3 linked regions of the Homo sapiens genome follow. The protein of the gene in region 3 purifies or fractionates together with the protein of the main gene of each other region. This does not show direct contact. Each region holds a gene or a part of one and is shown on either strand. Other genes may lie near its edges. The genes, in order: POLD1, POLA1 and POLD3.

The links.
Region 1: the proteins of POLD3 (region 3) and POLD1 purify together in Homo sapiens (co-immunoprecipitation; 8 studies listed by BioGRID and IntAct, with this or other methods). This does not show direct contact.
Region 2: the proteins of POLD3 (region 3) and POLA1 fractionate together in Homo sapiens (co-fractionation; 2 studies listed by BioGRID). This does not show direct contact.

What each region holds. Positions count from the first base shown.
Region 1 is NC_000019.10:50,408,253-50,415,359, forward strand, and holds part of POLD1 (DNA polymerase delta catalytic subunit), read left to right. Parts: intron 1-454; coding exon of another isoform or gene 455-532; coding exon 533-649; intron 650-869; coding exon 870-983; intron 984-1,266; coding exon 1,267-1,414; intron 1,415-1,688; exon of another isoform or gene 1,689-1,772; intron 1,773-5,173; coding exon 5,174-5,269; intron 5,270-5,489; coding exon 5,490-5,627; intron 5,628-6,562; coding exon 6,563-6,738; intron 6,739-7,107. UniProt on the Homo sapiens protein: As the catalytic component of the trimeric (Pol-delta3 complex) and tetrameric DNA polymerase delta complexes (Pol-delta4 complex), plays a crucial role in high fidelity genome replication, including in lagging strand synthesis, and repair.
Region 2 is NC_000023.11:24,738,861-24,745,967, forward strand, and holds part of POLA1 (DNA polymerase alpha catalytic subunit), read left to right. Parts: intron 1-514; coding exon 515-690; intron 691-2,514; coding exon 2,515-2,644; intron 2,645-3,141; coding exon 3,142-3,261; intron 3,262-4,369; coding exon 4,370-4,469; intron 4,470-5,580; exon of another isoform or gene 5,581-5,710; intron 5,711-5,739; exon of another isoform or gene 5,740-6,033; intron 6,034-6,557; coding exon 6,558-6,682; intron 6,683-7,107. UniProt on the Homo sapiens protein: Catalytic subunit of the DNA polymerase alpha complex (also known as the alpha DNA polymerase-primase complex) which plays an essential role in the initiation of DNA synthesis.
Region 3 is NC_000011.10:74,588,193-74,595,592, reverse strand, and holds the start of POLD3 (DNA polymerase delta subunit 3), read right to left. Parts: upstream 3,012-7,400; 5' UTR 2,935-3,011; coding exon 2,875-2,934; exon of another isoform or gene 2,389-2,874; coding exon of another isoform or gene 2,383-2,388; intron 1,533-2,382; coding exon 1,477-1,532; intron 1-1,476. UniProt on the Homo sapiens protein: Accessory component of both the DNA polymerase delta complex and the DNA polymerase zeta complex.

The sequences.
Region 1 (7,107 bases), on a different chromosome or scaffold from region 3:
TGAACCCGGGAGGTGGAGGTTGCAGTGAGCTGAGATTGCGCCACTGCACTCCAGCCTGGGTGACAAAGCGAGACTCCGTCTCAAAAAAAATAAAATAAAATAAAATAGTAGATTAATTATATATATTATTTTTCTTTTTCTTTTTCTTTTTTTGACACAGGGTCTCACTCTGTCACCCAGGGTGGAGTGCGGTGGCATGATCTTGGCTTACTCCACCTCCTAGGCTCAAGCAATCCTCCTGCCTCAGGCCCCTGAGTAGCTGGGACCACAGGCGTGCACCACCACACCTGGCTAATTTTTAAAATTTTTTTGTAGAGATAGGGTTTTGCCATGTTGCCCAGGCTGATCTGAAACTCCTGAGTTCAAGCGATCCTCCTGCCTCAGCCTCCCAATGTGCTGGGATTGCAGGAGCGAGCACTGCTCCCAGCCAATGAATGATTTTTTTTTTTTAAAGGGTGAGGCCACAAGACAGGGCGGGGGCGGCATGGGAACTCCTAGCCCTGACTCCCGGCCGCGGCTGCTCCCCTCCCAGGTACTACGACGTCCCCATCGCCACCCTGGACTTCTCCTCGCTGTACCCGTCCATCATGATGGCCCACAACCTGTGTTACACCACGCTCCTTCGGCCCGGGACTGCACAGAAACTGGGGTATAGTGCCCAATTCAGCATGTGTCCCCCGAGGCCCATCTGGGCCTTCCCTTGGGGGGCTCAGTCTGGTGGGGGGCATAGGCACAGGCCCAGAGATAGTAGGGAGTGGAGGGGTGCTTGAGGGGCCTGCGTGTGCTCATGGCCAAGGCCAGGACCGTAGGGCAGAGGTGGGCTGGAGCAGGAGGGTGGCCGGCAGTCACCCCAACATCTTCCAACCCAGCCTGACTGAGGATCAGTTCATCAGGACCCCCACCGGGGACGAGTTTGTGAAGACCTCAGTGCGGAAGGGGCTGCTGCCCCAGATCCTGGAGAACCTGCTCAGTGCCCGGAAGAGGTGAGCCCTGGAGATCGCCTGCTTGGAGCTCAGACCTGTTGGGGCCTCTGGGCAATCCCTGTCCCTCACTGGGACACCCCAGGGCTGCCCAGCCACCCTGCCCTCAGCTGTGCGTGAATTAGCACAAGGCATCCCCTCCTGGCAGCTTCCTTTTGCCCCCTTGGCCAGAAGCTTCTGTGCAGTGCACAGTACGCCCAACCGTACATGGCACTCACTTCCAGAAAGGAGCCCTGACCAATGCCCAGGTGCCGCCTGAGTGTGCTTTCCCCGTGTTCCCTCGCAGGGCCAAGGCCGAGCTGGCCAAGGAGACAGACCCCCTCCGGCGCCAGGTCCTGGATGGACGGCAGCTGGCGCTGAAGGTGAGCGCCAACTCCGTATACGGCTTCACTGGCGCCCAGGTGGGCAAGTTGCCGTGCCTGGAGATCTCACAGGTGGGCACTCGGGCCCCTGGAAGGCAACTGGGGGCAGGTGGGCCCCCTGTGTAGGAGACCAGGGCTCCATGTGGGGGACCTGTATCCAGAGGACTGGGCACCCCAACTCACTGGCCTTCTAGAGAGAGGATGCCAATGTGGCTTGAGCAATTGGTCCATTCCTTCACTCAGCAAATGCCTACTGAGCACACACTGTGGTCAGGGCTCACTCTGTGCCCTGGGGATACAGAGGGGAACAAAATGGATGAGAGCTCCTGTCCCTGTCATCTTGCAGCCCAGTGGGGACACTGACAGGTCTGTGTAAACGTGTTTAGGACACAAGTGGCGCTACGAGCTTTGCAGCCGGATAAAGCAGGAGGTGCGGACTGTCGGGGAGTGATGGGGCTGGGCGGGACTCACCCCTCTCAATAGGCGACGCTCACACAGAGGCCAAGGGACGTGGGGAGGGAAGCCATTCACCGTCCCCACGGCAGCGTCCCGGTCTGCCTACCCACGGCAGCTCTGCTGCTTGAACAGAAAAACAGATTCTTTGAAACCACAGAGGGCCTGAGTTTCCGAGATTGCCAAGCTGGGGTCAGTGCCCCAGCTCCTGGCATATGAGGGCCTCGGAAGGGTCTTCCTGTCCAGCCTTCTCCCCTGGGACTTGAGTCTTGGCCCATTCCAGGCCAGTAGTTGTGCTGCTCTGCTTGGTTACCTCTAGCCACGGGGAGCTCCCTCTCTGGCTGGGCACTGCGCCACTTTTCACAGGGCTCTGGGTGGAAGGCTTGGATGAATTCTCAGTGGGTGGGGCCTTTGCACACACCCACCCACCCGCAGTTCTGGGGGTCCCAAAGACCACTTAGGTTCAGTGATTCACTAGAAGTACTCAGAGAGCAGAAAAGCTGGTTCTCATGGTTATGATTTAATACAGCAAAAGGACACAGATTAAACTCAGCAAAAGAAAGAGGTGCACAGGGCAGGGTATAGGAGGGACCAGGCGTGTCTTCCAGTTGTGCTCTCCCAGTAGAGTTGCCAGGCTGGCCCTCCTTCCTCCCAGTTTTGATGCGTGCCTGCACACATGCAGCATTGCCAACCAGAGGCTCTCACCCAAGCTTTGGGGTCCAGGGTTTTTCTTGGGTGTCAGTCCTATAGGCATGGAGCACCCTGTGACTGGCCTTAGTGACTCCATCATCCCCAGGCCCCTCAGCAACCCCCAGAGGTCAAACTGATACTGCATGGCCCAGGGCCCTACCATAAACCATGTTAGTGTCAACTACCTGGTGTGGTTCAAAGTCCCAGGTACACAAACACCTTTTTTTTTTTTTTTTTTGAGACAGAGTCTCACTCTCTCACCCAGGCTGGAGCGCAGTGGCACAATCGTGGCTCACTGCAGCCTCAACCTCCGGGACTCAGGTGAGCCTCCCACGTTAGCCTCCCAAGTGGCTGGGACTGCGGGCACGTGCCACCTATTTTTGTTATTTTTTGTAGAGATAGGGTCTCGCCATGTTGCCCAGGCTGGAACAGAGACACTGTTATCAGGCGGGATATTCTAGGGGCTTAGACTACCAGGAGCCAGGCAAGAGCCAGACCTTTCTTTGCACAAAGTGAATCGCTCACTGCATGCTCCCAACTCCCCTCTGCCTTTCACAGTCCCCGGCTGCCTCCCCAGCCTCCTTGGTGGAAAGGGGTGGCTGTGTGGACATCAGGCTCTAGCCCTGAAGCAGAGGCCAGGCCAAGAGAGCACAGCTTGGCCCTCCCCTGGGGCTGCCTCTTACCAATCCTGTGTCTCTGTCTTTTCTCTCTCAGCCGCTTCCCTCTGTCACTGTTCTGTTTCTGTCTCTTGACCTCTTTCCTTATTTCTGTCTCTCAAGCTTATGGGAGCAAGAGGTGGAATAATAAAAATGCAATGAATTGGCTGGGCGCGGTGGCTCACGCCTGTAACCCCAGCACTTTAGGAGGCCGAGGCGGGCGGATCACGAGGTCAGGAGTTCAAGACCAGCCTGGCCAACATGGTGAAACCCTGTCTCTATTAAAAATACAAAACATTAGCCAGGAGTGGTGGCAGGTGCCTCTAATCCCAGCTACTCGGGAGGCTGAGGCAGGAGAATCGCTTGAACCCAGGAGGCAGAGGTTGCAGTGAGCCGAGATTGCGCCAGTGCGCTCCAGCCTGGGCAACAGAGCAAAACTCCGTCTCAAAAAAAAAAAAAAGTAATGAATTACAGTGTTCACGCCTGTAATCCCAACACTTTGTGACACTGAGGAGGGAGGATCACTTGAGGCCAGGGGTTTAAGACCAGCCTGGGCAACATAGTGAAACCCCATCTCTACAAAAAATACAACCAAACAAAACTAGCCAGGCATTGTGGTAGCTCATGCCTGTAGTTGCAGCTACTCAGGAGGCTGAGACGGGAAGATGGCTTGAACCCAGCAGTTTGAGTTACAGTAAGCTGTGATGGCATCACTGCACTCCATTCTGGGTGACAGAGTTGAGACCCTGTCTCTTTTAGTTTTTGTTTGTTTGTTTTGAGATGGAGTCTTGCTCTGTCACCCAGGCTGGAGTGCAATGCCACAATCTTGGCTCACTGCGACCTCTCCCTCCCGGGTTCAAGTGATTCTCCTGCCTCAGCCTCCTGAGTAGCTGGGATTACAGGCACCCGCCACCATGCCTGGCTAATTTTTGCATTTTTAGTAGAGACGGGGTTTCACCATGTTGGCCAGGCTGGTCTTGAACTCCTGACCTCAGGTGATCCACCTGCCTCGGCCTCCCAAAGTGCTGGGATTACTGGTGTGAGTCACCACGCTTGGCCTCCTGTCTCTTAAAAAAAAAAAAAAATTGAATCATTTCAGGAAAAGATTACAAAGGAAAGAAAAAGGAACATAGGACAGGTGGAACAAGTAAAAGCTAGACAGTAAAGTGGTAGACGTAAGCCCAGCTATATCAGTAATTACACTAAATGTAAATGGACAAAATGCTCTAGTTAGACAGATTTCCTGACTGGATCCACACAAACAAAAACAGAAGAATCACACCCATCTCTCCTTGGTGTCCCCACCCCCAGCCTCAGGTTTGGTGGTGGTGGTGGTGGTGGTGGTGTTGTTGTTTAAGTATTTTTTAGTTTTGTGTGTGTGTGTGTGTGTATTTTTAGTAGAGATGGTGTTTCACCATGTTGTCCAGGCTGATCTCGAACTCCTGACCTCAAGTGATCCAGCCACTTCAGCCTCCCAAAGTGCTGGGTGTACAGGCATAAGCCACCACGCCAGCTAGTTTTCTTAACTCTAAAATAAGACAGTGGGTTTCTCAATGGTTTCTTAGTCAGGGTGGTGCCACCCCCTGCTCTGGGGGGCATTTGTCAATGTGTAGGTAGGGCCAGTTCTGGTGGTACAGGGATGGGGGTGGCACTGCTGGCTTCCAGGGATGGGGCTGGCTATGTCGGTGGTCCTGTACCATAGAGAGCTGCCCAGAATGTCAGTGTGAGGGAAACACTGGGCCAGTGGCCTCTTCAGGCCGCAGTCTTTCCAGCATGCATTTGATGTAGTCACTTCCTTGTGCATGTCCAGAACTCTGAGCCAGGGAACCCACTTCTTTCCACCTGACCATTGAGGAGCCGCCTTATAGTCCCATTTTGCAGATTTGGGAACTGAGGCCCAGGAGGGGCAGAGTGGCTTGTACATAAGCCTATGCCACTGGGAAATGGCAGAGGCGGGACCCCTCCCCCGCCGGCCCACGTTCACTGCACATGGCCCCCAGGGCTTCACTCCGCATGATTCTCTCCCCGACAGAGCGTCACGGGGTTCGGACGTCAGATGATCGAGAAAACCAAGCAGCTGGTGGAGTCTAAGTACACAGTGGAGAATGGCTACAGCACCAGTGCCAAGGTCGGGGGCTGCCCACCGCTGCCCTGAGATGGGCCCAGGGCAGGTGGGGGGATGGAAGCCGGGCCGGACCCCCATGTCCCCGTGCCTCCTGGTCACACCCTGCCCACTCTCCTGTTGCATCCTTGGGTCCCGTTGGCATTAGCCACCTGCCACCCCCCGACACCAGTAGTTGACAGAAGGGACCCTGCTTCTCACATACACACATCCCCACCGCCCGCAGGTGGTGTATGGTGACACTGACTCCGTCATGTGCCGATTCGGCGTGTCCTCGGTGGCTGAGGCGATGGCCCTGGGGCGGGAGGCCGCGGACTGGGTGTCAGGTCACTTCCCGTCGCCCATCCGGCTGGAGTTTGAGAAGGTGCGTGGCTGGGTCAGGGGCTCTGCATTTAGGTGCCCTCATCAGGGTACTCAGGGTGTCCCGTTCTTTGGGTTCACAAAAGCCACAGTGTGAAGGGATGTTGCTGCTTAGATTCTCCTGAGGCTGGGGCCTTGGTTTGGGAAGCCTCCAAGGCCTTGGGCTTTGTTACCCTGGATGGCATCTGTTCTTTGAAAACCCTGTCGCTGTCCCTGGTTTTGAGGTGTCACAGTGTCCCTGGTTTTGAGGTTTCCCAGTACCTGTCAGATGTGGAGCTGCCCTCCACGCAGGGACCCTGATGGGGGTGCACCTTAGATCTGTGCACCATTGCCCCTGGCCCTCTGAGTGCGGCACACTTGGTCCCAGGAAACCTTGCACCATATTTTCTTTTGAAGAGTCTGGGTCTCGCTCTGTCGCCCAGGCTGGAGTGCAGTGGCGAGTTCACAGCTCACTGCAGCCTCCAACTCCTGGGCTCCGGCGATCCTCCCGCCTTGGCCTCCTGAGCCGCCACGCCCAGTTCTCACACTGTACTGTTTCCCCGTGGCTTAACGCTCTCTCGTGCCAGGCCTTGGACTTGGAGCCTCGCAGAGTGGGGAGGTCTCTGCCTCAGGGCTCACCCAGCCGTAGTTTCTCCTCTCTTTCATGGGATGCTTCATCGACTCGCCTGTCTGGATCTCATGTTTTAGGGACTATCTGGATTTATCCCAGTCTCTGTTTCAGATTGGGGTCTCTGGTGTGGGGGCTCTGGCATTGCCGAGGGGCCTCAGGAGCCACTTCCAGCCATACAGTGTCTCGGTCCATCCCACCAGGCTCAGGGCACGGCTCCCATGTCCTCAAACTGCGTCTGGGACCCTGTCTACCTTCAGTTTCTGGGGGGCGTCTCCAGATTGGGGCTTGGCCTCCTCAGGCTCAGGGTCTTGGCCATGGCTCCCTCCCAGGTCTACTTCCCATACCTGCTTATCAGCAAGAAGCGCTACGCGGGCCTGCTCTTCTCCTCCCGGCCCGACGCCCACGACCGCATGGACTGCAAGGGCCTGGAGGCCGTGCGCAGGGACAACTGCCCCCTCGTGGCCAACCTGGTCACTGCCTCACTGCGCCGCCTGCTCATCGACCGGTGTGTGGGGCCTCCTCCCTCAGACTCAGGGGGCTGGGCCCCAAACCCCTCCTCCCTCAGACCCAGGAGTCTAGGCCCCAGCCCCTCCTCCCTCAGACCCACGGGTCCAGGCCCCCAGCCCCCTCCTCCTCAGATCCCGGGGTCAGGGCCCCCAGCCCCTTCCTCTCTTAGATACAAGAGTCCAGACCCCCAGCCCCTCCTCCTCTGGGAACACAGGTGTCAGGCCCAGCTCTTCCTCGGTGGTGAAGCAGTGGAAAGAGTCGGCTTGGGCAGCTGTGGGTTCAGGCCCTGCCTCTGCCACTCTGCAGCCTATGGTAGGAAGGGCCCCTCTCTGCCCTGAGCCTCAGCCCTAAGAGCTCATCCTGGTCT
Region 2 (7,107 bases), on a different chromosome or scaffold from region 3:
GCCACTACAGATCAAAGTTGGGGCCACTGCTCTTGCTTCTTTTCTTATTCATATCTTTAAGGTGGTAGAGTTGTTATTAGCACTTCATCTGAACACTTGCTTAGCTTTTTACCCCCTTCAAGATTTTCTTTATGTGGCATCTTCTCAGTGAGGTATACCCCATTACCCTATTTAAGATGGCAGTCCCCCCGTATTCCTTGTACCCCTCACCCTGCTGTTTTCCCATTTTCCATCCACTTGTTACCTCCTAAAACTATATAATTTCTTGTTTATGATGTCTGTTTTTTATTATACATTTCAAATGAGGCCAGGAATCCTTTCTGTTTTGATCACTGCTGTATCCTGAGTGCCTAGAATAATGTCAGATACATAGTAAATGTTCAAAAATATTTGATTGATGTATGGAAGAATGAGAGTTTTATCATAATTTTGGGCCAGCTTCAAAATAGGTTAGAAAGAAATGTTCTCAGTGTCTGCTCTTTCATGAAGTTTGCTTTTTGTTCCCATCTTGTAGGGCCGGAGTGGATTTGGTGAAAGAAATGCTACCTGTGGTCGAATGATCTGTGATGTGGAAATTTCAGCAAAGGAATTGATTCGTTGTAAAAGCTACCATCTGTCTGAACTTGTTCAGCAGATTCTAAAAACTGAAAGGGTTGTAATCCCAATGGAAAATATACAAAATATGTACAGGTATGATCCTAGATTCTTCAGAATTCATCTGTCTTGAAATTAACAACAGCAGGACACTACTAGTACTATCCTTAGTCTGGAGGGACATGAGCCAGTGGTGTTGTAGAGGGGAAATTGTCTCTACTACTTTCATAATTTGAACTAGTTTACCTCTTGAATTATTGTAATTGATCAGTTTATCTCCGTCTCCCTCACCTGTGTTAACACTATCTTGATGTTTCCTAACAGTAGTTTGGATTTAGATTTCTACTCTTAATTCATTTATTCAGGAATTAGGGTAGATATTTTAGAAATATAAAAACTGAGCAATCATTAAGTTAGAGGTATTGCTTGCTTATTTCTTCCTCCTACTCCTCTGGCCATCTCTCATTCATTCCTGCTAGTTCTTCCTGAGTTCTTTCTTGGACTTCTCTTTTCTGACTTTGTTCTTTCTCTAGGTGATCTCATTGAGTCTTAGGAATTTAAATACCATGGGATGGCTATGCTTCCCACCTGTGTATCTTCAGGTTAGACCTCCCTAAATTCCACACTCAGTGTATCTGTTTTACCTATTTTACTTGATATCTAATGTGAACTCCCAGCTTGTTCAAAATTGAGCTCTGATCTTCTATCCTAGGTTCTTCCTATAGTCTTTCCTTACTAAATTAATAGGTGTATTTTTTCCATTATCACTGGAAACTTCCAGAGTCTTACTTAGCCCCACATGTCTGAGGCATCTTTAATTCCTCTCTCTGATATCCCACAGTAGATGCATCAGGGTATCCTATCAGTTCTATCTTCTAAATAGATCTAAGTCTGACCACTTCTTTTCAACTGCATTGGACCCATCCTATCCAAGCTGCTATCCTCTTTCCCCTGGATTACTGGGTTTATATGCCTATCCCCTTACTTTTGCCCTTACCCCCTTGTGGTCGATTCTCAATCCAGAATCAGAGTTATCCTGCTAAAATCAAGTCAGATGTGATACTCTGCTCAGAACCTTCCAGTGACTCTCTGTTTCATTCAGAGTAAAAACTAAAGTCCTTATTTTTACTTACAAGGTCCTTTACAATGTGTCTCTATGTCGTTAACTCTGTCCTTATCTCGTACTGCTCTTTCCATCATTCTCTCTGATCTAGCCATATTGGCCTCTTTCCTAGTCCTGGAACTGTCAGATTTGCACGCAGCTCAGGACTTTTGAATGTGCTATCCTGTCTGCCTGGAATGCTCTTTCCATAAGGCTTGCTCCCTCACCTCTTCAAGATCTTCATTCTCAGTAAAATCTTCCACTGTTTCCTAACAAAAATTTCAGTCTCTGCTTCTGATACTTAATATTCCCGTTGCTTAACTTTTAACATTATATAACATACTATATACTTAATTTCTTTGTTTTTTTTTATACTCTGTCTCCCCCGTGAGGACATAAGCTCCAGGAGGATAGGAAGTTTTGTTTGTTTTGGTCACAGCCAATGCCTGGCATATAGTAAGCATGCAATACATACTCACTGGATGGAATGAATGAAAGGATTTAGGTAGTTTTCAGGCTTGTAGTTATTATATTACTTCAGTTTTTCCTTATGGGATTTTGTGTGTGTGTGTGTGTGTGTGTGTGTGTGTGCGCGCGTGTGTGTGTGTGTGTGTTTTGGAGAAAAGCATTGGGATCAGTGGTATGAATGAATTCCTAGTTACATACTGACCTTATTTTAAATTGTTTCTGAAGCCAAGGTGCTGTTGCTCTGAATTTACTTACACCCAGAATTCCTTATAATATTTTGTGAAGTTCTGATTATAGGCATTGTTTCTTTTAATTACTTGATTCTGTTTCATTCTTACTTTTCTGTACAGTGAATCTTCTCAACTGTTATACCTGTTGGAACACACCTGGAAAGATGCCAAGTTCATTTTGCAGATCATGTGTGAGCTAAATGTTCTTCCATTAGCATTGCAGATCACTAACATCGCTGGGAACATTATGGTAAATTTAACTTAGAAAGGGGGAAAAAGCATTTCCTGTTGGATTCAGTGTTTGCTTGGGGTAGTTGTTATATGATAATGAGTCTAAATGCATGCTTATAAAATGAGTAACTTGGATTCTGAAAGCTGGATTTCTTTTGTAAAAGGAAGAACTGGTTGGGAGAAGGGGAGGAATGCCAGGTGCAGCGTGTTGAAATTTGGGTGAACATACGGATCATCTCTCTAACATCTGGATGTGTCTTTTTAGTGGAATGGTCCATTTGGGAGTAAATAAATAGCCAAGTTGTCAATATTTTAAGCTCTCTTTGTCTCCTTTAGCTATAATGCTTAAAGAAAACGTTAGGAATAATTTAGTACCTTTTTTTTTTTTAAAAAAAAAGCAGACCGTTATTAGGAATAGTTTTGAAGGAGGTGCTGTGACTAAACTTACTGACTCAAAGTTGCTTTTGTTAGTTGTGGTTTTGAGCTCAAATTTAAAAAATAAATTCCATTTAATAGTCCAGGACGCTGATGGGTGGACGATCCGAGCGTAACGAGTTCTTGTTGCTTCATGCATTTTACGAAAACAACTATATTGTGCCTGACAAGCAGATTTTCAGAAAGCCTCAGCAAAAACTGGTGGGTCCAAAACTGTGTAGTATTTTGTTTTCTCTTAACCCCCCCCCCCCTTTTAATACCTAGATAGCCTTTTTTTTCTGTGATAACATCTGCTTTCAAAATAGCTAATCCCTTGTGTACTAAAGAAACCGTGTCAAGTTTATTCCCTTGTTTTTGTGTGGTCATTTCCTTTTCCACTTTGTAAAAGGAAAATGCACTTTGTGCAGACAAAATTATTTGTGAAATGTGAAATTCTTTGAGGGAAGCATTAGACCTCTCTGATGGGTGACCATACATGGAATGTGTTCTGGCACCTCAGCCCTATCCAAAGATAAATGCCAGTTAAACTTTTTATTTTCTTAAACCTATGAGCCTTTATTTTTGTGTTGCATTTTTCTGTACTAGTATGACCAAGGTCACCCACAGTCAGGTTTCTGAAGTAGCCTCCATCACTTTGGAACTAAAACTTAGTTTAGCTACTGTTTTATTAGCACTGATATTAATTAATTCAGAAATGGGAATTGAATGTTAGAATTTGATTCAGGTTCTCATATTTGCTTGTTTTTTAATGTACATTATCAAAATTGGTATAGGGCATATTCATTTAGAGGACTTTAACTTCTGCTGAGGTATTGAATGTTGGCCAGTAATAAACTACTTAGGAATGGATTTTCAGTATATGGATGTACTTGTTTTATGGTGTCCATATTAATAATAGGGATAATGATAATACCTGCATGAAGTATTTTATGTTTTTACATCACGAATGTTAGAGTAGTGATTTTAAGAGGGCTGTTTTATAATCTCAAATTTTATATAACATGAAAAGTGGTATTTTTCAATATTCATTGATTTAAAAATATGAAATTCTGTAAATTCAAAAACACATAAAAATAGAATTTTCATATTTGTTAACTCAGGATATAGTATTTGTTTAAGAAATTACTATGCTTGGGATTCATTTGGATTCGTGAACATATTACAATAACTGTCTTTCCCAACAGATAGGACCACTAACTGAAATGTTTGTTAGAACTAAGTCCTGCAATTGGAAAAGAGAGAATCATCAAAATTTTAAATTAGTTAATTAGTTGCTGGCTGGTGAAGTTATCTTTCCATTTGATATTAGGGAGATGAAGATGAAGAAATTGATGGAGATACCAATAAATACAAGAAAGGACGTAAGAAAGCAGCTTATGCTGGAGGCTTGGTTTTGGACCCCAAAGTTGGTAAGGCTGGGCAGTGAATTGGTTTTCTCCCAGTATTAAGGAATTTCTTAATGTGGATCTAGGCTTGAGAAACTAGAAGACTGAATTATATCTTATAGATCAGCGAATAGGTCTCATGACTTTTATCTTTCGTTCACGTGAAAATCTTGGTTGCCAGTCACCTGACATAGACTTAATGTGAATTTTGTTATGCTGTGTTCCAATAAAATATTATTTATAGACATTGAAATTTAAATTTCATATAGTTTTCATATGTCATGAAATATTGTTTTTGATTTTTTTCCAGCCATTTAAAAATGTAAAAACCATACTTAAGCTCATGGGTGGTACAAAAATAAGTAGGTTGGATTTGGTCTGTAGCCGTAGTTTGTCTAATACATAGATAGCTGTCCAGTACATAGATAGCTGTTTGTCCTGACCAGTTCAGTTGACAGCAAAGTTGAAGGACGTGCAGACAATAACCACCAAATTTAACTTTAATAGGAGAATATCTTTTTCCCTATTGTCATGAATGGCAAAGATGTTTTGTGGTACACAGAGCTAGAAATAATTTTTTTTTCTTTTTTTCTTTTTTTTTTTTGGAGACAGAGTTTTACTCTGTTGCCCGGGCTGGAGTGCAGTGGTGCGATCTCTACTCACTGCAACCTTCACCTCTTGGGTTCAAGCGATTCTCCTGCCTTAGCCTCCTGAGTAGCTAGGACTACAGGTGTGTGCCAGCATACCCAGCTAATTTTTTTGTATATATAAAAAAACATTTCAACCCTTCCCAAGTGTACAGTTCAGCAGTAGTGTTAAGAATATTCACATTGCTGTGAAGGAATTAATGTGAATTTTATCTAATAAGTTAGTTCTGAGTAGGAAACATTTTTGACAAAAGTGATTTTGTTATTAGTTATAATGAAATGGAGCAGTAGTACTTGGTGTTATGTAGGTCTGGGTTTGAATTCAGTGTGATCTTGGGCTGCCTGTTTAACCTCTGTAAGCCTCAGTTTCTTCTGTAAAATAGAGTTAAGAGTAATATCTACCACACAGGGATTTAAGGATAAATTAGTATAGTGCTGGACACAGAATAAACTATCCTATATGTTTGCAATTATTATTGTCTTAATAGTGGACATTTATTTTTATTCAGTTTCTTCTCAAGGTGAAGATAACTCTTTGTAAATGTCCTACAGAAATATAGTAGCTTTCTGTTCTTCCTTTGCAAGTAAAAAGGGTGGGTCGTTCCACTACTGACATTTATATATATGTGTCTCTTGTTTGATTTTAGCTCAGTTTTTGTACAGGTAAATGTGCCGTCCATTTTATTTTTTGAAGCTGTTGTAAAAGAATAAATTACTCTACCAGGCGCGGTGGCTCACGCCTGTAATTTCAGCACTTTGGGAGGCTGAGGCAGGCAGATCACGAGGTCAGGAGATCGAGACCGTCCTGGCCAACATGGTGAAGCCCCATCTCTACTAAAATATAAAAAATTAGCCGAGCACGGTGTTGCGCGCCTGTAGTCCCAGCTATTCGGGAGGCTGAGGCAAGGGGACTCACTTGAACCCGGGAGGCAGAGGTTGCGGTGAGCTGAGATTGCGCCATGGCACTCCATCCTGGAGACAGAGTGAGACTCTGACTCAAAAAAAAAAATAAAAATAAAAATAAACCACTCACTTGGTTTTATTTGGGGTGGGGGGTGGGAGAGTAGGTAGGAGGATTCTTCAAAGAATTCTTGCTTTGAAGGAGAGTTGAACATTTTTTTTTTTTTAATGGATGTGACACGTCTCAGATAGCTGATTGGGAAGGTATTTGCTCATAATAATGGTGTGCTTTGGGGACAGCTGGGGAAAGGACTGGTTGTAGCTGGTTCTAAAGAGAGACAGGATCTTTTTCTCCCTCTTCTTTTGTGATCTGGCTTTTCACTAATCCGCATCATTTTATGAAATGGTAGTTGATTCTTTTTTTCCCTTTTTGTCTGTTTCACAGCTCTGGGTAGTGTATATGGATAGTATATAGTTTCTAATATACTTACAGTGCTTTTAATAATGATGTTTTGACAATTCTGCTTTTCTTTAGACTTTTTATGACGTGGCTTTTTAATTTCAGGTTTTTATGATAAGTTCATTTTGCTTCTGGACTTCAACAGTCTATATCCTTCCATCATTCAGGAATTTAACATTTGTTTTACAACAGTACAAAGAGTTGCTTCAGAGGCACAGAAAGTTACAGAGGTTTGTATTTAACCTGGGACTCTTGAAATTGAGTTTAAAAAAATTGCTTAAAGAAGGAAGATCTGTGTCTTTTTAAAATAGTTTTATTGTGGTATTATTCATATACCATATACTTCACCTGTTTGAAGTGTGTAGTTCAGTGGCTTTTAGTGTATTCCCAGAGTTTGCAACCATCATCACAATGAGTTTTAGGATATTTTCATTATTCCCCAAAGAAACCTTTTAGCTGTCACCTCCCTCAATCCCCATCCCTTCCACCTCTAGGCAACTACTAATCTTTTTGCTTTTATAGATTTGTGTATTCTGGACGTCTCATATAAATAGAATCATACATTATATGGCCTTTCGGTATCTGGCTTATTTCACTTATAATGTTTTCAAGGTTCATCCATTTTGTAGAATGTACTAGTACTTTATTCGTTTGT
Region 3 (7,400 bases):
CCATCAAGAAAGTACAAAGACAATCCACAGAATGGGAGAAAATTTTTGCAAATAATTTTTCAATCAGGGTCTTGTATTCAGAATATATAAAGAACTCTTAAAACTCAACAACAACCAAAAATACCCAATGACAAAAATGGGCATAATTTTGAATATCTATTTCTCCAAAGATATGGCCAAGCAGCATATGAAAAGATATTCAGCAACATTAGTCATTAGGAAAATGCCAATCAACATAATTTATGAGATACCACTTCACATCCACTAGGATGGTTAAAATAAGACATAATAAAAAGTTTTTGCCAGGTGTGGTGATGTACACCTGTAGAGCTAGTTGGTAGGCTGAGGCGGGAGGATCCTTGAGTTCAAATCCAGCCTGGGCAACATAGTGAAACCCCATCTCAAAAAAAAAAAAAAAAAAAAAAAAGAGTTCATCCATGAGAAGTCTGAGGGAAAAAACAGTGTTAGTGTTAACCAGAATGTGGAGAAACTGAAATACTCATATACTGTTAGGACTGTAAGAAGCGCAGCCATTTTGAAAAATAGTTTGTCAGTTCCTCAAAATGTTAAATACAGAATTATCTCATGACCCAGCAATTCCAATCCTAGTTTGGCTGTGTCCCCACCCAAATCTCAACTTGAATTGTAATAATCCCCACATGTCAAAGACGGACCAGGTGGAGATAACTGAATTATGGGGGCAGTTCCCCCATGCTCTTCTCATGATAGTGAGTTCTCACGAAATCTGACGGTTTTACAAGGGGCTTCCCCCTTCGCTCGACACTCATTCTCTCTCCTGCCACCCTGTGAAGAGATGCCTTCCGCCAAGTCTCCTGAGGCCTCCCCAGCCATGCGGAACTGTGAGTCAATTAAACCTCGTCTTTATAAATTCAATCTCAGGTGTGTCTTCATAGCAGCATGAGAATGGACTAACACAAATACCCAAGATAACTGAAAATATATGTTCATATAAACACTTATAGATGAATGTTTTATACATGAATGTTCATAACAGCATCATTCATAGCAGTCAAAATATGGAAATAACCCAAATGTCCATTAATGATGAATAAACAAAACTTGTTGTATCCATATTACAGACTGAATCATGTCTCCAAAAAGGTAATGTTAAAGCCCTAACCCCCAATACCTTAAAATGTGACCTTATTTAGAAATAGAATTATAGCACATGTAATTAGTTAAGACAAGGTCATATTGGAGTAGGGTGGATTCGTAATTCAGTATGACTGGTGTTCATATAAGATGGACGTGCAAAGATACAGATATACAGGGAGAATGCCATGACAATGAAGGCAGAGATTGGAATTACGCAGCTACAAGCCAAGAAATACCAATGATTGCCAGCAAACCAAATTAGCTCTAATCTATGTAGGCTATCTGTAGAGTTAAAAGCAAAGCATAACAAAACAAAAAAAAATTCCAATATGATTAAAATTGGTAGTAAATTGGACTTACTGTTTGGCCTGGTTAACATGAACCCCTAGTGTATAGCTCAGCCATTTGTATGTCACCTGTAACAAGAAAAAATTTTTCAAATGTTTTATTAGATGACTCCAGAGTGCACATCAGTCCCGAAGGTCTGTTGCTAAAGATTCCTATTCTTAGATGATTATGCCTTACAAATTACAATAAATGCCACTGCAGTTTTCCCAAGAACTATCTATCTGGGTAGGCAGGACCTATTTATCTTAAAAATGCTAAGAAGTTTGTTTCATGAACTAATGAAAAGTAATCTAAAAAGACAAGCTGAACATACCTAACAGAAAAAACTCTCATTTTCCTCACATTCCTTGTTTTACTCAGGCCCTTTCCTCATGATGTTTTTTTTGGGGGCCACCAGCCAAAGCCATCCTAAAACTCATTCAGAAGCTAGATGACTTTGAAGTGTGATGTCTCAGAAACTTCTAAAGAAAGTTGCACCCATGCAAACATTAAAGGGCACAGGTGGTGCAGGGGTCAGGAAACGAAAAAAGTGGGTAAATATTTTTATAAGAGATTAGATTGGGAACTACCAGCATCAAGCCTTCATCCCTCCTAGACCCAGGATGCCTGCACTCTCTTCTCTCAAAGTCTCTTCCAATTCCAAATGTCAAGCTTCCAATAGTTAGAAGACTTGCACAGGTTAGGCAAAGGCAGTGTGATGTAGAAGAAAGCATTAGTAAGAGGACAGACCTAGGTTGAAAAACTGCCTATCCCTTACCAAACGCAAATAAACAAGTTATTTGGCCCCTCAGCTTCAATTTCCTCATCTCGGGATACCACCACCGACCTGGGATGGGGTGCGGGGAGGTCACTGTAAAGATTAAAGTGCCTTGGCACACAGCAGGCACTCAATCATCACGGTTTGCAAAGTGCACTCACATCCATCAATTCGCTCGATCTTTTCCTCACCCGTGTGAAGCGGATCAAACCTCTATCAATGCTTAAATTTCCAGGAAGAGGAAACAGTATCTGGAGGTTACGCAACTTGTAACTTAACACAGTTAAGACACGATTTCCTCAACTGTAAACTTAAAACTTTAAACGCCAACCACCTTAAAAGAAAGGTGTAGGGACGCCTTAGAACTCTCAGCCAACGGCCCTCCCTCCGCGCCCGGTCTCCGCGGCTCCAGCCCCAGGCTCTGTTCCCAGCACGCCCACCCAAGGGACGCGGACTTCCGTGTGTGCTGGAGGACCTTCCCGACGAGTCCTCGCTCGCTCTGGGGCACAGAGCTCGCCCAGGTCCCCTCGTGGGGACCTGTCTCCCCTGGTCCCCACGAAGCCACAAGCAGACAGAGGGTCAAGGCTCCCGCCGCCCTAGCCGGGCCCAGGACCCCGGTCGCACGCCCGCGTTCCCCAGTAGTAGCTGCTCACGATCTTGTTTTGGTCCGTGACGAACTCGTCTATATTTTCCAGATAAAGCTGGTCCGCCATGGTGCGGCAGCGCTGGGACCCGCCTCTAACCCCTCTCTCAATCACAGCCACAGCTCCCGCCGGCGGGAAACGTCTTTGCTCCCTCCCAGGTCCCGGGTCGTTTCCCCGGCAACGGAGGCGACGCACTACGGCGGCCCTCGAAGGGTCAAACTAGTCAGGGAGACGGCGCAGACGGAGGTAGGCAGAGCTAGTAGAAAACACCGAAGTGCGGGGCCTCCTGGCTGGTTTTTTCCTATACCTACGTACCTATGATAAAGTTTAATTTATAAATTAGGCACAGTAAGAGATTAACAAAAATAACTAACGATAAAATAGAACAATTATTATTATACTGTAATAAACATTAGTGAATATGGTCTCTCAACAGATGTCATTGGGTATAATATTTCCCTACCGAGGTTGGCTGCGCGTGATGAAACCCGGGAAAGCCAGGATAAAGGGGAGACTATTGAAAACAAGTAATTTTAGTAGTGCTGCCAACTGGGGAAAAGTACTGCCTGTTATAATCCCTCAGAGTTGAGAAATTAGGGAAGGTTTTTCCAGAGGGGTTGAGGAGAGGCTGAGTGTTTCGGATAGAAGCAGGAGAATTTGCTGGAAAAGAGTTCATTATCTCTGGATTGTTAGGAGAAGAGGCGGATGAGAGAGACTTGGGAGAAACCAAATCGTTGTGCCTAGGAGACTGTGAAGAGGCGCTTGAGCTGTGTTCTCAGGAAAACTTGGAGAAAAGTTATCAGGTTGGGGAATTTCAACTCAAATTTCTCCTAGTATCACCCCCGCAAAAATCTTTAATAATTGACTTCAGCATAAGCCGGTGCAGTTCAGTATCGCAGGTGTAGTGCGTAAGAGAGTGGGCTCTAGAGTCAGACTTACTGGGTTTGAATCCTGGTTTTGCTGTTTGTTGTGTAAACTTAGGTAATTCTTTAGCCACTAGGAGCCTATTTCCTTATCTATAAAATGGGAATAATAACAGTACCTACTTCAAAGGCTTGTCGCGACATGCATTCATTCAAAGCATAGCAAAATCCTGAGAAAGGCCAGATACTATTCTGAGTGTTGAGGTGCTGGGGCTGCAGCTATGAGCAATAATAAACCGAGCCTGTTCACATGTAACTTACATTCTGAGATTTTTAAGTGAAAGATAGTGGTGGTTTAAAATAGGGTAGCAGACCGGGCGCGGTGGCTAACGCCTGTAATCCCAGCACTTTGGGAGGCCTAGGGGGATGAATCACCTGAGGTCAGGAGTTCGAGGCCTGCCAGGCCCACATGGTGAAACCCTGTCTCTACTAAAAATATAAAAATTAGCCGGGCGTGGTGGCACGTGCCTATAGTCCCAGTTACTCCCAGGGCTGAGGCATGAGAATGTCTTGAATCCAGGAGGTGGAGGTTGCAGTGAGCCGAGATCATGCCACTGCACTTCAGCTTGGGAAACAGAGAGAGACTCCGTCTAAAAATAAAATAAAATGGCTCGGCGCAGTGGCTCACACCTGTAATCCCACACTTTGGGAGGCCGAGGCAGGCAGATCACCTGAGGTCAGGAGTTCGAGACCAGCCTGGCAAACATGGCGAAACCCCGTCTCTACTAAAAATACAAAAATTAACCAGGTGTGGTGGTACACGCCTGTAATCCCAGCTACTCGGGAGGCTGAGGCAGCAGAATCACTTGAACCTGGGAGACCGAGGTTGCGGTGAGCTGAGATGGTGCCACTGCACTCCAGCCTGGGAAACAGAGTGAGACCCCCCTCAAAATAAATAAATAAAATAAAATAGGGTAGCAGTGCCAGGCACAGTAGCTCACACCTATAATCCCAGCACTTTGGGAGGCCAAGGCAAGTGGATCACTTGAGCCCCAGGAGTTCGAGACCAGCCTGAGCAACATACTGAAACTCCGTCCCTACTAAAAAAAAAAAAAAAAAAAGCCATGGTGGCACGAGCCTGTGGTCTGTGGTCTGTGGTCCCAGTTCTGAAGTGGGAGGATGGATTGAGCCCAGGAGGTAGAGGTTGCAGTGAGCACTTGATCATGCCACTGCATACAGCCTGGGTGACAGAGTGAGACCCTGTCTCAAAAAATAATAATTTTTTTTTTTTTTGAGACAGAGTTTTGCTCTTGTTCCCCAGGTTGGAGTGCAATGGCGCGATCTCGGCTCACTGTAACCTCTGCCTCCCGGGTTCAAGTGATTCTCCTGCCTCTGCCTCCCAAGTTGCTGGGATTACTGGCATGCGCCACCACACCCGGCTAATTTTGTTGTAGTTCTAGTAGAGAGGGGGTTTCGCCATGTTGGCCAGGCTGGTCTCGAACTCCTGACCTCAGGTGATCCACCTGCCTTGGCCTCCCAAAGTGCTGGGATTACAGGCGTAAGCCACAACGCCAAACCAATACATTTTTTAAAATAGAGTAGTGGTAGTGGAAATTGAGAGAACTGAGTGACTTGAGTTTTGTTTTAGAGTCGGCAAAACCTGCTGATGAATTACACGAGTGGAGTGTGGAAAAAACAGGAATCAAGGAAAATACCTAGATATGGAACATAAATCTTTAGGTAAATGGTGATGCCCTTGACTGAGACGTGAAAGACTGGAAGCAGATGAGAAAATCAAATAATTCTATTTGGCCAGTTACAAATGAGATAATATACATAAAACTCTCATGCAGTACCTGCACACAATAAAATCTATGATCGTTGACTATTACGTTATTATATACCAGACCTACTATACCAGGTACTTTAAGAGCAATATTTCATTTAGTCCTCATAGCAATGCTGCAAATGTATTATATTGTCCATATTTTATTTTATTATTTATTTATTTATTTTGAGACGGAGTTTTGCTCCTGTTGCCCAGGCTGGAGTGCAATGGCGCAATCTCTGCTCACTGCAACCTCTGCCTCCCGGGTTCAAGCGATTCTCCTGCCTCAGCTTCTCGAGTAGCTGGGATTACAGGCATGCACCACCATGCCCAGCTAATTTTGTATTTTTAGTAGAGACAGGGTTTCTCCATGTTGGTCAGGCTGGCCTCGAACTCCCGACCTCAGGCAATCCGCCCACCTCAGCCTCCCAAAGTGCTGGGATTATAGGTGTGAGCCACCGTGCCCAGCCTGTTTATTTATTTTGTTTTATTTTTTGAGATGGAGTCTTGATCTGTCGCCCAGGGTGGAGTGCAGTGGCATGATCTCCACTCACTGCAACCTCTGCCTCCCAGGTTCATGCGATTCTCATGCCTCCACCTCCTGAGTAGCTGGGATCACAGGTATGCACCACCACACCCAACTGTATTTTTAGTAGAGAGGGGGTTTCGCCTTGTTGGTCAGGCTGGTCTTAAATTTCTGACCTCAAGTGATCCGCCCACTTCGGCCTCCCAAACTGCTGGGATTACAGGTGTGACCCACTGTGCCTGGCCATTGTCCATATTTTAGAGACTGGATTGTTGCGGCTCAGAGAGAAATAGATTTTTCCAGGATTATTAGGTGGTTGCTGTGGGATCAGAACTCAGGCCTCTTGTCAGTGCTCCACAGGAGTGGGAAGTAAGTCAAGATAATTAGCTAGGGAAGAGTCTTGATACTTATCCCTATGCCAAATGGAGCAGATGACAATGAGGTGGCTACATTGTCTGGGCTATATACCCTGGGGTTGGTAGTCTGGCACCAGGAAAATTTAGGACACTAACACACACGAAGAGTTTAGGAGCGGAGGTTTAATAGGCAGAAGAGAAAGAGAAACAGTTCTCTTTATATATAGAGAGAGGGGTCTCCTAGTGATCATGGTGGCAGATGCGCTGGACTTTATAGTCCAGCTTGAGGAGGCGGTGTCTGATTTATGTAGGGCTCACAGATTGTTTCGATCAGGTGTGACATTTACATAGCCCAGGGGTGAAGGCTGGTATCCCCACCCTGATCTTATGATGCAAATGAACTCTCCTTGGCTGGCACCATCTTGTCTGCTCCTTACTGTACATGTGGCTGGCAGAGAAGGGATGATGGAGTCGCCATCTTGAACATGTCTAGTCCCTAGTTCCTGCCCACATTCACCCGTGCAAGCTCCCAGCTTGCTTGTCTATGTCTGAAGCTCAACTTTACAGGCTGGTCTTTGTTAGAAAATGATTTGGGGCTGCTTTTCATGAAAAAGAAAAGCCTTACCATGGACTTCTATACCCTTACTATCTGCCTAAGTGATTTCTTCTTAACTCCTATATCAACCACACTGTTTAGAGTGCCCAGCCCAACCCAATGGACCTGCCAATATTAGGGTTGAATGACTTAGCTGGATTAGTGGTTACCCTTGGGAGGGTAGAAACTGGAAGGGAGTATGAGGAGGCTTTTGAGATGAAGGTAATATTCTTGATCTTGGTGCTGGTTGCATGGTGTGTTGAGTTTGTGAAAATGATTTGAGGTATATACTTTTGATATGTATAGTTTTCTATATGGATGTTTGCGTGAATCAAAAGTTTAAGGAAATTATTTGAGGAATCTTAAC